3 linked regions of the Homo sapiens genome follow. The protein of the gene in region 3 interacts with the protein of the main gene of each other region in a pairwise test. Each region holds a gene or a part of one and is shown on either strand. Other genes may lie near its edges.

Region 1 (3,748 bases), on a different chromosome or scaffold from region 3:
GGAAAAGAGGGGTCACCATACCAATTAGGTCTGAATGGGGGAGGGGGCTTTGCAACCTGCCCCCTGCCTCTCTATCTCGCGCAGTCTTCCCTGGTCGGAGTCGGGGCCAAAGGAAAACACCTGGAGCTGGGAGCAGTGAAGACATTGGGGAAGATGTTTTCCTCTGCAGACAGGAGGGCAATTCTTTAGTGGAGGCAGTATAAGTATTTAGGAAAAATAAGATCATGAGTCCCATGGAACATTTTTTGCCTTAATTAGCTTTATTTTAATTGTGTGGCTTTTCTCTGTAATATTCGTTTCAGCCTTTGTGTTGGGCACTAGACATGAGGCACGAGGCAGAACAGACATGGTCTCTGCTCTCATGGACTCTGCAGTTGAGTGGCAGGATAAATTTTAATCAAATGAGTATATAACTATTTGATGATGAGTTGTGGTGTACGCTGTAAAAGGTCATTTAAGGTGCTGTGATAGCATTCCACCCAGGGACCCAGGCAAGTCCCCCGGATAAATAGGGGCTGAGGGAAGGCGTTCCTGAGGAATGATGTTTGCTCAAAGACCTATAATGACCCCATTAATTGAATATTTGGAAGACAGAGGGAGGGCAGGCCCTGGGCTATCCTGTAACAGTATGTGGGCTACAGCCTGCAAGCCAATTGGTACACTTGGTAAAAAGAATTGTTTCTAAATTTAGAGGAAGTGTTGAAGCTTCTGGGAAGCAGGTGGTGACAATGACATTCAAAGAAAAAAATTGTTTTGTTTTGTTTTTTGAGATGGAGTCTCACTCTTGTTACTCAGGCTGGAGTGCAGTGGCACAGTCTCAGCTCACTGCAGCCTCTGCCGCCCAGGCTCGAGCGATTCTCCTGCCTCAGCTTCCCAAGTAGGGGACTACAGGCGCCTGCCACCATGATTGGCTAATTTTTATATTTTTGGTAGAGGTGGGGTTTCAGCATGTTGGCCAGGCTGGTCTTGAACTCCTGACCTCAAGTGATCTGCCCGCCTCGGCCTCCCAAAGTGCTGGGATTACAGGCATGAGCCACCATGTCCAGCCCAGTTTTTTTTACACTGTGTGAAAGTTTCTAAGATTTTAAAAAACTTTCATGAGAAAATGCTTGGGAAACTAAGATTGAAAAACCTTAGTCTTGCCATGTAATTTGGAATAATAATTATAGAATCATCTCTGTATCCTATAAAATAATACCATGCTTCTAAATGAAAGCCAGTGACCTGTGGGTCTCTGCACCTGTTGATGAGATTTACAGTCCTCTACAACGCCCTGTCTTTGATGCCAAACAAGGAATTCTCTCAAATTGTCCTCCCCGCACACAGTGTCTTGGTTGTGGTTTATGTTGTCTTTAAGCAGTAGGTACAGTCGGCTGTACAGGGGCTGAGTTCAAGACATTAGTTAGAGAGTATCATCAAAGAGGACATTCCATTAACGATAGCAACAGTAAAATATCCAAGGTTAAACCTTGTGGAAACCTCGTTAGTGGGGTGGAAAGGACTTTAAAACAACTAAAGGACTGAAAAGATATTAATAAATTTTTGGAAGGAAACTTCAATATGGTTAAAAATCTCCATTCTCCCTAATTATTCTATAAATCCTCTGAGTTTCCAATGAGAATATTAATAGCATGTATGTTTTCTGTAATGATACTAAGTAAAATGGTTACTAAAATTTGAGTGAGGGGGACATGCAGAACCCAGAAACTGTTTGAAAAAGAGAAGTAATACTGGAGCTATTGTATCCCACCCAAATCCCTTTGATCCTGGTCCAGGAGTAGACAGGCAGATCAGTGAACAGAAAAGATAGTGTGTGTGTAGGCAGACATACACACGTAGTTTAGGAGGTGATTTAGGTAGCATTTTAAATAAAATTGGAAATGATCATTTATTCAGTAAGTGTTGTTGGGATGATTTATTTCAAATAAATGAAAGATTTAAACACAAAATTGATTTGCCCCCATTTGCACGTAATACACTATATGTGTACATGAGTATATATACACACACATACACACACACTGGTACAATTTATCTCTGAGTTTTCATGAGGCTGGCTATCATAAACTCTTTCTTGCTTAAAATGTTTTCAATGAAAATTCCTAAAAGATTGCATTTTTAAAATTTGAGGTCTTGAAAGAAATTACAATTTAGTCAAATTATCAATAACGTAAAGATCTGTTTTGTAAAGGGAGACTCATGTATGTATTGAAAATAATAATATTTTTAAGGATCTTTTGTTTTCAGTATTTTTTTTTACATTACACCTCTGCTTTGTCTTCCTGTTTGAGATCTTTTCAGAATTTATCAGTGTCTCTGAGCATGTTAAAAGTCTGAGTGGGAGAGAAAGGAAGGAAAGGCAGTTGCTAAAATATAACTTGAAGAGAGAATAAATAGACAGGAAAGCTCACTTTTGTAATGCTGCTTGAGACCTGCAATTGTAATTACTGTCCTAACATTTGTGATTGATTTTTAGGAGGAAGTAATGGTTCTGGAGAGAATCTTACTGCAGACCATCAAGTTTGATTTACAGGTAGAACATCCATACCAGTTCCTACTAAAATATGCAAAGCAACTCAAAGGTAAGAAGAAAGTTTTCAGAAGAATTTTTTCATTCTGAAATCAAGTCTTTATAATTTGATGACACTCAAATTACGCTTCTCAAAAGCGGAAAACAAAGTTTGATGTGTGAAATACCAAGGGCATGGCTTGCTCAGTCAATTCAGCATTGCAGCTGCTAATGCTGTTTCCTTTTATGTATAAACAGGCTCTGTCATCCAGTTGCCAAGTGATGGGAGAGGCAGGAAAATGAGGCAGAATTTTTTAAATGGACTAATAAACTTAGCCTTGGAGCCAGGTTTTCCATACATGGTGGTTCAGCGTAGGTCATGAGGAGGAAGAAGGGGTAGGATGTGGACCCACATCATTCATCCTTGTTTCCCACGCAAAAGCTCTTTGCTGTGTATTTGAGTGGTGCTGAACACGTGGTAGGTTTTTAATAAATACTTGATGCTGCCTGTGAATTTTTCTATTGCTATTAATTTACCTTTTTGTCCCCATTTCTAGGTGATAAAAACAAAATTCAAAAGTTGGTTCAAATGGCATGGACATTTGTAAATGACAGGTATACATGTTCAAATGTTGATTAATTACAGTATTTTAAAATAGGCAGAGACTTTATGGACCATTTCATCTAAACCCCTCATTTTGTGTCAGAAGAAACTGACTTGCCCTGGCTTGAGGAGCCAGTTAATGGCAAAGCTGGGGCTGACGTCCAGGTCATCTGCTTCCCGGCAGAGGGTTTCCTTCTGCCCTGCCGTGTCATGGTGTTGTGAGGTGCTGAAATTTTATCACCAGTCTGAAACATAAGTCCAAAACAATACACTGGAGAATTTTGAAAACTAATTACTTAGAGCCCATTTGGTTTTGCAAAAATATACTTCCTGGTATAGTTTTAGAGCCTTAACACTCTTTTGAGAGGCCAGGGATCTAATGAGGGGCCGTGGTGGGAAACAGAATGCCTGTGAATGGAGTTGCTGCCAGCCCCATCCCACTGCAGTCAGTGAAGCTTCTCTTACATTTGACTTCCTCCATAAGATTTCATTTGAAGAAACAGTTGAGTGGCTAGGATTTCAACAGTTTAAATAACATAAGTCATTTTCATTGGTGTAGCAATTTTTGGATGTGCTAGAATTCTTCTGATTCTTTAAGGAATAGAGAAATTACTAACTATGGTTAAAGTAACTTA
Region 2 (3,748 bases), on a different chromosome or scaffold from region 3:
CAGCCTGGGCTCTGGGGAGAAGGAGAAGCAGAGGGGGAGGTCCGAGGTCACCCGGGATGGGTGTGTGGGCTGGGCCTGGACAGCTGTGGCACTGTGGCACCAGAATGGGGCTTGGGGAGGGGTGACCCAAGGGGCCAGTTTCCCCTCCCCTGAGCCCGGGGGCTGGAAGGCCCTCCGAAGCGCAGTGTCTCTGGGCTTCCTCCCCAGCCGCAGGCTGGCCCCACCTTCCCTCCAGGATGCCAGGACACGCAGGATGGCGGCCTACTACCCAGGGTGCCAGCCTCCAAGAACCATGGCCCAGGCCCTTTCCATGGCCCAGACCAAGCCCAGGCCTTGGCCAGGTCCCCAGCCGGCCTGGCTGCCCCCTCAGTGTCAAGCGTTCCCTCCAGAGCCAAGATCCTGGGCTGTGATGGCTGGGGGCCCAGGGCCCCTCCCAGCATCCCTTCCAGCTTCCCAGGCCCCAGGGCAGGGCTGGGCAACTCCTTGAAACCATTGCTTCCCGGCCACCCTCTGGCCAGGCTGGGCGGGCCCTCCTGGACAGGCAGACAGGCTGCACGCTGCCCTGCTGTGGCCCGAGTACCCTGCTGGGCAGGGCAGCATGCCAAGGCCTCCAGGTGCCAGCCTGGATTCCAGCCCCATCCCAGGGGGCCAGCGGGGAAGCTGTGCGTGCTTCTCCTCCCTCGGGATGCACCTGCCTCGCCCCCTCCTCCACCCGCTCCAGACCCGCCCTCCGGCGAGTATGGACCCCTTGCCATCTCCTCCCTGCCAGGCCGGTCGCCTGCGTCCACCCGGACCGCAGGGGAGTAACAAGTGCCTGACTTGTCCCAAACTCCCAGTCCTGACCCCCCAGGGACGCCCCTTCCCGAGGTCCAAGGAAGGACCCGGGCTTGCGAGGGGCAGCAGGAGGGAGACTCTCCCGGCCAAGGGAGGAGGCACCTTCCAAAGCCCTTCCTAGCAGCAGCCCCGGCGCGGCCGAGAGGAGGGGCGGCTGCCCCGGACAACTTCATGCCCAGGCTCCGGGTACCCCCCTCTCACCTCGCCGCACGCCCCCCACCGCGGCCGCCCAACTTCCCAGCTGAAGTTTGCGCCCGCCCCGGGCCCGGGCGCTGCTCGGCCCGGCCTCCAGACGGAGGGAAGGAAGGAGGGAGAAGAAAGACCGAGAGCTCGAGGGACCCGGCCGGGGAGCCGGCGAGGGAGGGAGCGCGCGAGCCAGCGAGCGAGCGAACGCGGGGGCCTCGGCGAGGGCTCACAATGGCCCGGGGCGCGGACGCGAGCGGGGGAGGAGACCCTCGGGCCCCGCAGCCCCGGCGCGACAGGCGGGCCCCCCCCCCCCCGCCCCGGCCCGGTCCCCACGGCGCGACGCCCGGGGGGCTTCCTACCTCAGCGGCGGGGGCGGTCGGGATCCGGGCTGCGGGCTCCGGCGGTCGGGGGGCGCGGGGAGCCGAGCGGGGGAGGGGCCGGGACGGGCGGGGGCCGGGGCGCGAGGCCTCACGGGGCGCGGGCTCCCCTGGCACGGCCGCCCGGCGCCCGGCCGCTCCGCCACATCTGCAGCTCGGGCAGGGAAGGTGGCCGCGGCGGCCGGGCCGTGCGGGGATGTCTTAGAGGGAGGGCGGGCGGGCGGGAGGAGGGAGGAGGGAGGCGGCGGGAGGAGGGCCCGCCGGCCGCGGAGGAGGGCGAGGAGGAGGGGCGCGGGGGGCGGCCTCCACCCCTCCCCTCGCTCGCTCGCTCCCTCCCTCCCAGCAAAACCCCTCTCACCGCTGCGGCCCCAGGCCCGGGGCGCCAGCTGCCAGGCGGGGCGTGCGCGTCGGGGGAGGGGGCGGCGGGAGCCGGCGCTGGGCCGAGGGAGGGGGAAGGGAGGGCGGCGCGGCCGCGGGGAGCGGGCACCGGGAGGGAGGGGTGAGGGAGGGAAGTGGGGCGCCGAGCCGCGCGCGTCCTCCTCGGCCCCATCCTCACGCCACCCCCCCCCCGCGGCCCCGCCCCCGGCCCGAGGGCAGCGCTAGGACACGGCCGGGAGGTGGCCTGGGGGGGCGGGGGAGCCCGAGACGTCCCGCCCTCGGGGAAGCCCGAGGAGGGGGCCGGGCGCGCGGGCCCAGAGGAAAAGCCCCGCAGACCGGGAAGATGGAGGAGGTCGCGGCGGCGGAGCGGGCGGGGACCCCTCGCCTCCTCCCGCGGGGTCACCTTGGCCAGGCCCCCCTGCGGCCCCGGGCGGCGGGGAAGGCGGCAGGAATGCCTCTCTGCGGGCCCTGATTTCTCCGCCCAGCCCAGTTCCAGGAACGCGCAGGCAGCGCCCGGCGGGCAGAGGTCCCGGATCCCGATGCCGGGCGGCGCAAACCAGTTTTCGGGGCCCGGCGCAACCCCTCACGCTGGTGAGACGGCGGGCGACTCCCTGCCGTGCCCTCGGTCTCAGTTTCCCTCACGGTAGAATAACGACGAGGCCCGATGCCGAGCAATCCGAGCTTCCGCTTGGTTCCTAGCTTGGTCCCAGCATTTGGGACCACCTGCGTCCACTAGCCCGAGCGCCGCGGGAGGTCTAGATCCCTCCTGGACATCAGCACCCTGCGCGGCGCCCGCGGCCAGGGCAGCGAGTGCAGTGAGCGGATACACGCGAGGGAGAAGCCCCGCACCCGGCCCAGCTGTTTTCTGCCTCGTGTTGAACCACAGACTCGCGTTCTTGAGTGTGTTTTGTTTGGGCTAATCCCGTGCCCCCCGCCCTGTTATCTTCTTGCTGCTCTGCTGTATGCTGGCAAATTGTAGTTCAAAAAAACAGCCCTCCTGCTGTTGGACACCCCCTCTTCCCAGCGCAGTTGGCCTTGAGGAGCCTAGGAGACGAAAAAGGCATCCCAGAATCAGCATCCCCTAGAGGTGAGGCATCTGACGCTGGTTTTAAGTCCGTCTTCATTCGTGCATTTGATGCTGCGGTCCCCGCCAGAGCCCGAAGCACGTGGCTCTTGATCACAAGGCATCCATGGCAGGCACAAGGCTTGGCACATAGTAGGTGCTCCTGGGCTGGTGCCCAGATGGACACATAGCAGGTGCTCATGGGTTATGTGGACACACAATCGATGCTCATTGCATTTTAAGAGAATGCACACATAGTAGGTGCTCATGGGCTGGTGCCCAGATGGACACATAGCAGGTGCTCATGGGTTATGTGGACACACAATCGATGCTCATTGCATTTTAAGAGAATGCACACATAGTAGGTGCTCAGGACGTTGTGGGTGAATGCACACATAGTAGGTGTGGACTCGTAATGGATGCTCATGTTTTGGTCTAATGAACACATATTAGGTGCTCATGACCTGTTGTGGAAATGGGCACATAGTAGGTGCGCAGGAGCTGTAGGTTGATACCTGGAAGGGATGTAGGAAGGCCGTTTGCCTGGAGCAAAGGCTCGGAAGTTGGCGATTTGGAGGTGACCTCCCCCAGCCTCCACCCTCACCTCACCCCGGTCTCCTGAGTGTGGATAATGTGGAGTGTGGCCGGGTTAAACATTAGCCGGGAGATGGGCCCCGGGGGAAGGCCAGTTTCGGGACCTAGCGCTTCCAGGAGGGGGCTATTAAGGGCCGACTCTCTGGGTCCGGCGACCTGTGCGGGCGTCCGGAAGGGCCGAGGCCGAGGCCCGCAGAGCGCCCCCTCACGGCGGCGGGAATCGCTGCGCTTCAGCCCGGAGCCCTGCCCTGCAGCCGACCGCATCCGACCTCAGGCAGGCAGAACTGCAGCCCTGGGGTCGAGGTGTGTAGAAAAA
Region 3 (3,748 bases):
GCTGAGGTAGAAGAATCGCTTGAACCCGGGAGGCAGAGGTTGCAGTGAGCTGAGATAGCACCGCTGCACTCCAACCTGGGCAACAGAGCGAGACTCCGTCTCAAAACAAAAACAAAAAAGACACCTTGGGTGATTGGATTGGGAAACCTAGGGCTAGCTGCAGGGATTTCTGCAGTGGGAGGCTTCCAGTAGAAGAAAAGGAAGACATCGTAGGTGGGCCCCTCGACTGTGTATCCTAAGGAAATGAGGCATGAAAAAGGACTTCACCTTTTTTCAGTGGCTGTGGTGGGCCAGATGAGCACTTGTGGCTGAGAGACTCCCTCTTTGGAGAGAGGTGTTCTCAGATTTTCCTCACTTTGGTTTTATACTCTGTATTAGAGGTTTGTTTGGGTTGGCAGCTTGCATCTTCTCTTCACTCTGAGCTCTTTCTGCAGTTTGAAGAGTGATAAAAAGGTCAAGGACTTTCTTATTAGCAATGTTGATGGATGTGGGTCGTGGGTTTATTGCTTGTTTTGACTTCTTTTAACAGCTTTTCCTTTTTCTTCTCATTCTTTCTTTAGTGAATCAGTTTATCAGATAGAACTGTAACTTCTTGTTGCACATTGGCTGTATATATTGAACATGTCCAGTGGCATAGTTTAACTTTTTTTCCAGCCTATGCCTAACTGCCAGGCCATCTTCCAGATCAGCATCTTTCAGACTGCTATAGAATCCTTCCTGCTGATGGCCTTTTTAAAGGCTTGGCAAAATTTTGTATTCATCTTCTTCTTCTTTTTTTTTTTTTTCGAGACAGGGTCTCCCTCTGTCGCCCAGGCTGGAGTGCATTGCCGCAGTCTCTGCTCACTGCAACCTCCACCTCCCAGGTTCAGCTGATTCTCCCACCTCAGCTTCCCGAGTGGCTGGGACTACAGTCGTGTGGCCACCAAGCCTGGCTAACTTTTGTATTTTTAGTAGCGATGGGGTTTCACCGTGTTGGCCAGGCTGGTTTCAAATTCCTGACCTCAGGTGATCCGCCTGCCTCAGCCTCCCAAAGTGCTGGGATTACAGGCATGAGCCACTGCGCCTGACTATAATTCATCTTCTAGGGGTGCGTTTGGGTGTGGTGATCCGTGGGCCCTTTCAGCTAACTTCCTTGCTTGTTCTTTTACCTCATGCATGACTGTTGTTTCCATGGAGATTTTCTGGCTAGCGTACACGCTCTCAGTTGTGTGTCAGCATCTGAAAGTACTGTATACTTTTCACCTTGCTTATTTTTACTTTTTTTTTTTTTTTAAATTTTGGAGGCGAGGTTTTGCCAGCTTGGCTAGGCTCGTCTCAACTCCTGGGCTCATGTGATCTGCCCACCTTGGCCTCCCAAAGTGCTGGGATGACAGGCGTGAGCCACCACGCCCGGCCTTCCACCTTATTAAAAAAATTGGGCCAGGCGCGGTGGCTCACGCCTGTCATCCCAGCACTTTGGGAGGCCAAGGTGGGTGGATCACAAGGTCAGGAGATCAAGACCATCCTGGCTAACACGGTGAAACCCCGTCTCTACCAAAAAAAAAAAAAATTAGCCAGGCTTGGTGGTGGGCGCCTGTAGTCCCAGCTACTCAGGAGACTGAGGCAGGAGAATGGCGTGAACCCGGGAGGCGGAGTTTGCAGTGAGCTGAGATTGCGCCACTGCACTCCAGCCTAGGCAACTGAGCGAGACTCCGTCTCAAAAAAAAAAAATTACGTATACAGAAAAGTTGAGCGGACAATACAGTGGATGTCCATAGTACCCACCACTTAGATTCCCCAGTGATCTTTCCCCATATTTACCTTATGTAAGGATGAGTGTTGTGTGGTTTTTCTTTTATTCTTGTGGAATCAATTCAGAATCCTTTGTGTCTTGTCCAATGGACTTGAGTGTAGCCCTCCCTAACATGAGTGAGGTGTGCTTTTGCCTGTCCACACTTAGAAACAGCAGGTCTCTAATTTTAAAAGTAGCTCCTATTTACATTTGCCCAGTTACCCCCTAAGTTTTAAAAAACGTTTGGAATCAGAATAATGTACTCAGCATCACATAGTGAATTTTTTATAAAGTTGAATTTATGTCTCTTATCTCTTTCAATCTGTAGCAGTCTTCCTTGTATTTTTTAATACTTTGACTTCAAAAGAGTGATTAGGAAACGTTTCAGATATTTACAGAAATACATGGGAACATAATTCCCACTCACACATTGCCTTGCTTTAGCACAAGTACATGGGAATATTCCTACTCACGGCCGGGCGCGGTGGCTCACGCTTGTAATCCCAGCACTTTGGGAGGCCAAGGCAGGCGGATCACGAGGTTGGGAGTTCGACACCAGCCTGGCCAATATGGTGAAACCCCATCTCTACTAAAAATACAAAAATTAGCTGGGTGTGGTGGTGCACGCCTGTAGTCCCAGCTACTTGAGAGGCTGAGGCAGAAGAATCTCTTAAACCTGGGAGGTGGAGGTTGCAGTGAGCCAAGATGGTGTCAGCACTCCAGCCTGGGTGACAGAGCGAGACAGCGAGACTCCATCCAAAAAAAAAAATTCCTGCTCACACATCACCTGGCTTAAGCACAAGTACATGGGAATATACTTCCCACCTACACATCACCTGGCTTTAGCAGTTACCACCTTATGGCTGATCTTTTTCATCTGGGCCCCTGCCACTTTCCTCTGTATTATTTTGAAGCAAATCTCAGACATTATATTCATCAGCTTTTTAAATATTATCTTTAAAAGATAAATTAGAACTGTGTCATTGTCACACCTAAAAATTTTTTTTATCACTACTGAGATTGTAATCAGTGTTCATATTTCCAGTTATCTGTCATGAATGTTTTTAATTGTATGAAGAAAGGGAACCCTGTGGGTTTGTTTGTTTAAACTGTTGGAAGTTTGGAATGAGATTCCCAACTTTGAAGTCTAGCATCTGTTCTCAGGATGTGACACACAGAGGGTAGCTCTATGTTTTGACATTTTTATAAAAAAAATATCATCTTGGTCAGATAAGAGTTTGGTGACTCCTGGGAGGATCTCTTTTCAGGCTAGTGGAAATATGAGGCAGAAAACTGGGATTAAGCCGTACAGTGGGGATCCCATTCGGCAGTGTCTCCTTTAGGTACAGCTGAAGGTACCCGCTGGTGTCTGGCTGCTGCATGGTGGTGGGAAATGAAAGAGGTGGTGTGGCTGGGGAGAAGGGAGCTATCCAAGATGACCCTTGACGTCCCTCATCCCCACAGTTTCTTTCATTTGAGACATCCTTGCCCCACCTGCCCCTCTCTGAGCTGACTCCTCATTGCTTGCCAAGACTGCATAAAATGCTGCTATGTTGGTGGTTTGTTTTCCTGTGATTTCTTTTCCCCCTGAAGCCAAGCACCTTATGGAGAGGGCTGGATCTGTCCTGATCATCTCCGCTGTGACAGGGCATGGCCCCATGTTGATGGTGAATAGCCTCTCTGTGTTGGTACAATGCCCCAGTCACCATTCACTAGTCACATGTGTGCCCGCCACACACCATGCTTCCTTTTTGCATTTCTTCCCTGAGTTAGCTAGTCACTTAGGGGGAATTGGACTGTCCCGGGTCTCCTGGGAGTATCAGTACATGGCCGGACACACTACCTTTTCCTTTATAATTCTTTGATGGCATTCACACTACCTTTTTCTTTATAATTAAAGAAAATGTTATACAACCTCGTTGTGGCGTAATTGGCATACAACTAAGTGTACAGATTTAAAGCTTCAGTTTGATGAGT

Evidence for each region.
Region 1: the proteins of FAM168B (region 3) and CCNK interact in binary tests that used the Homo sapiens proteins (3 or more experiments, as listed by UniProt).
Region 2: the proteins of FAM168B (region 3) and GLIS2 interact in binary tests that used the Homo sapiens proteins (3 or more experiments, as listed by UniProt).

The regions. Positions count from the first base shown.
Region 1 is NC_000014.9:99,498,290-99,502,037, forward strand, and holds part of CCNK (cyclin-K), read left to right. Parts: intron 1-1,900; exon of another isoform or gene 1,901-2,476; coding exon 2,477-2,582; exon of another isoform or gene 2,583-3,066; coding exon 3,067-3,124; exon of another isoform or gene 3,125-3,748. UniProt on the Homo sapiens protein: Regulatory subunit of cyclin-dependent kinases that mediates activation of target kinases.
Region 2 is NC_000016.10:4,313,886-4,317,633, reverse strand, and holds the start of GLIS2 (zinc finger protein GLIS2), read right to left. Parts: upstream 1,568-3,748; 5' UTR 1,380-1,567; intron 1-1,379. UniProt on the Homo sapiens protein: Can act either as a transcriptional repressor or as a transcriptional activator, depending on the cell context. Acts as a repressor of the Hedgehog signaling pathway. Represses the Hedgehog-dependent expression of Wnt4.
Region 3 is NC_000002.12:131,058,820-131,062,567, reverse strand, and holds part of FAM168B (myelin-associated neurite-outgrowth inhibitor), read left to right. Parts: intron 1-3,748. UniProt on the Homo sapiens protein: Inhibitor of neuronal axonal outgrowth. Acts as a negative regulator of CDC42 and STAT3 and a positive regulator of STMN2. Positive regulator of CDC27.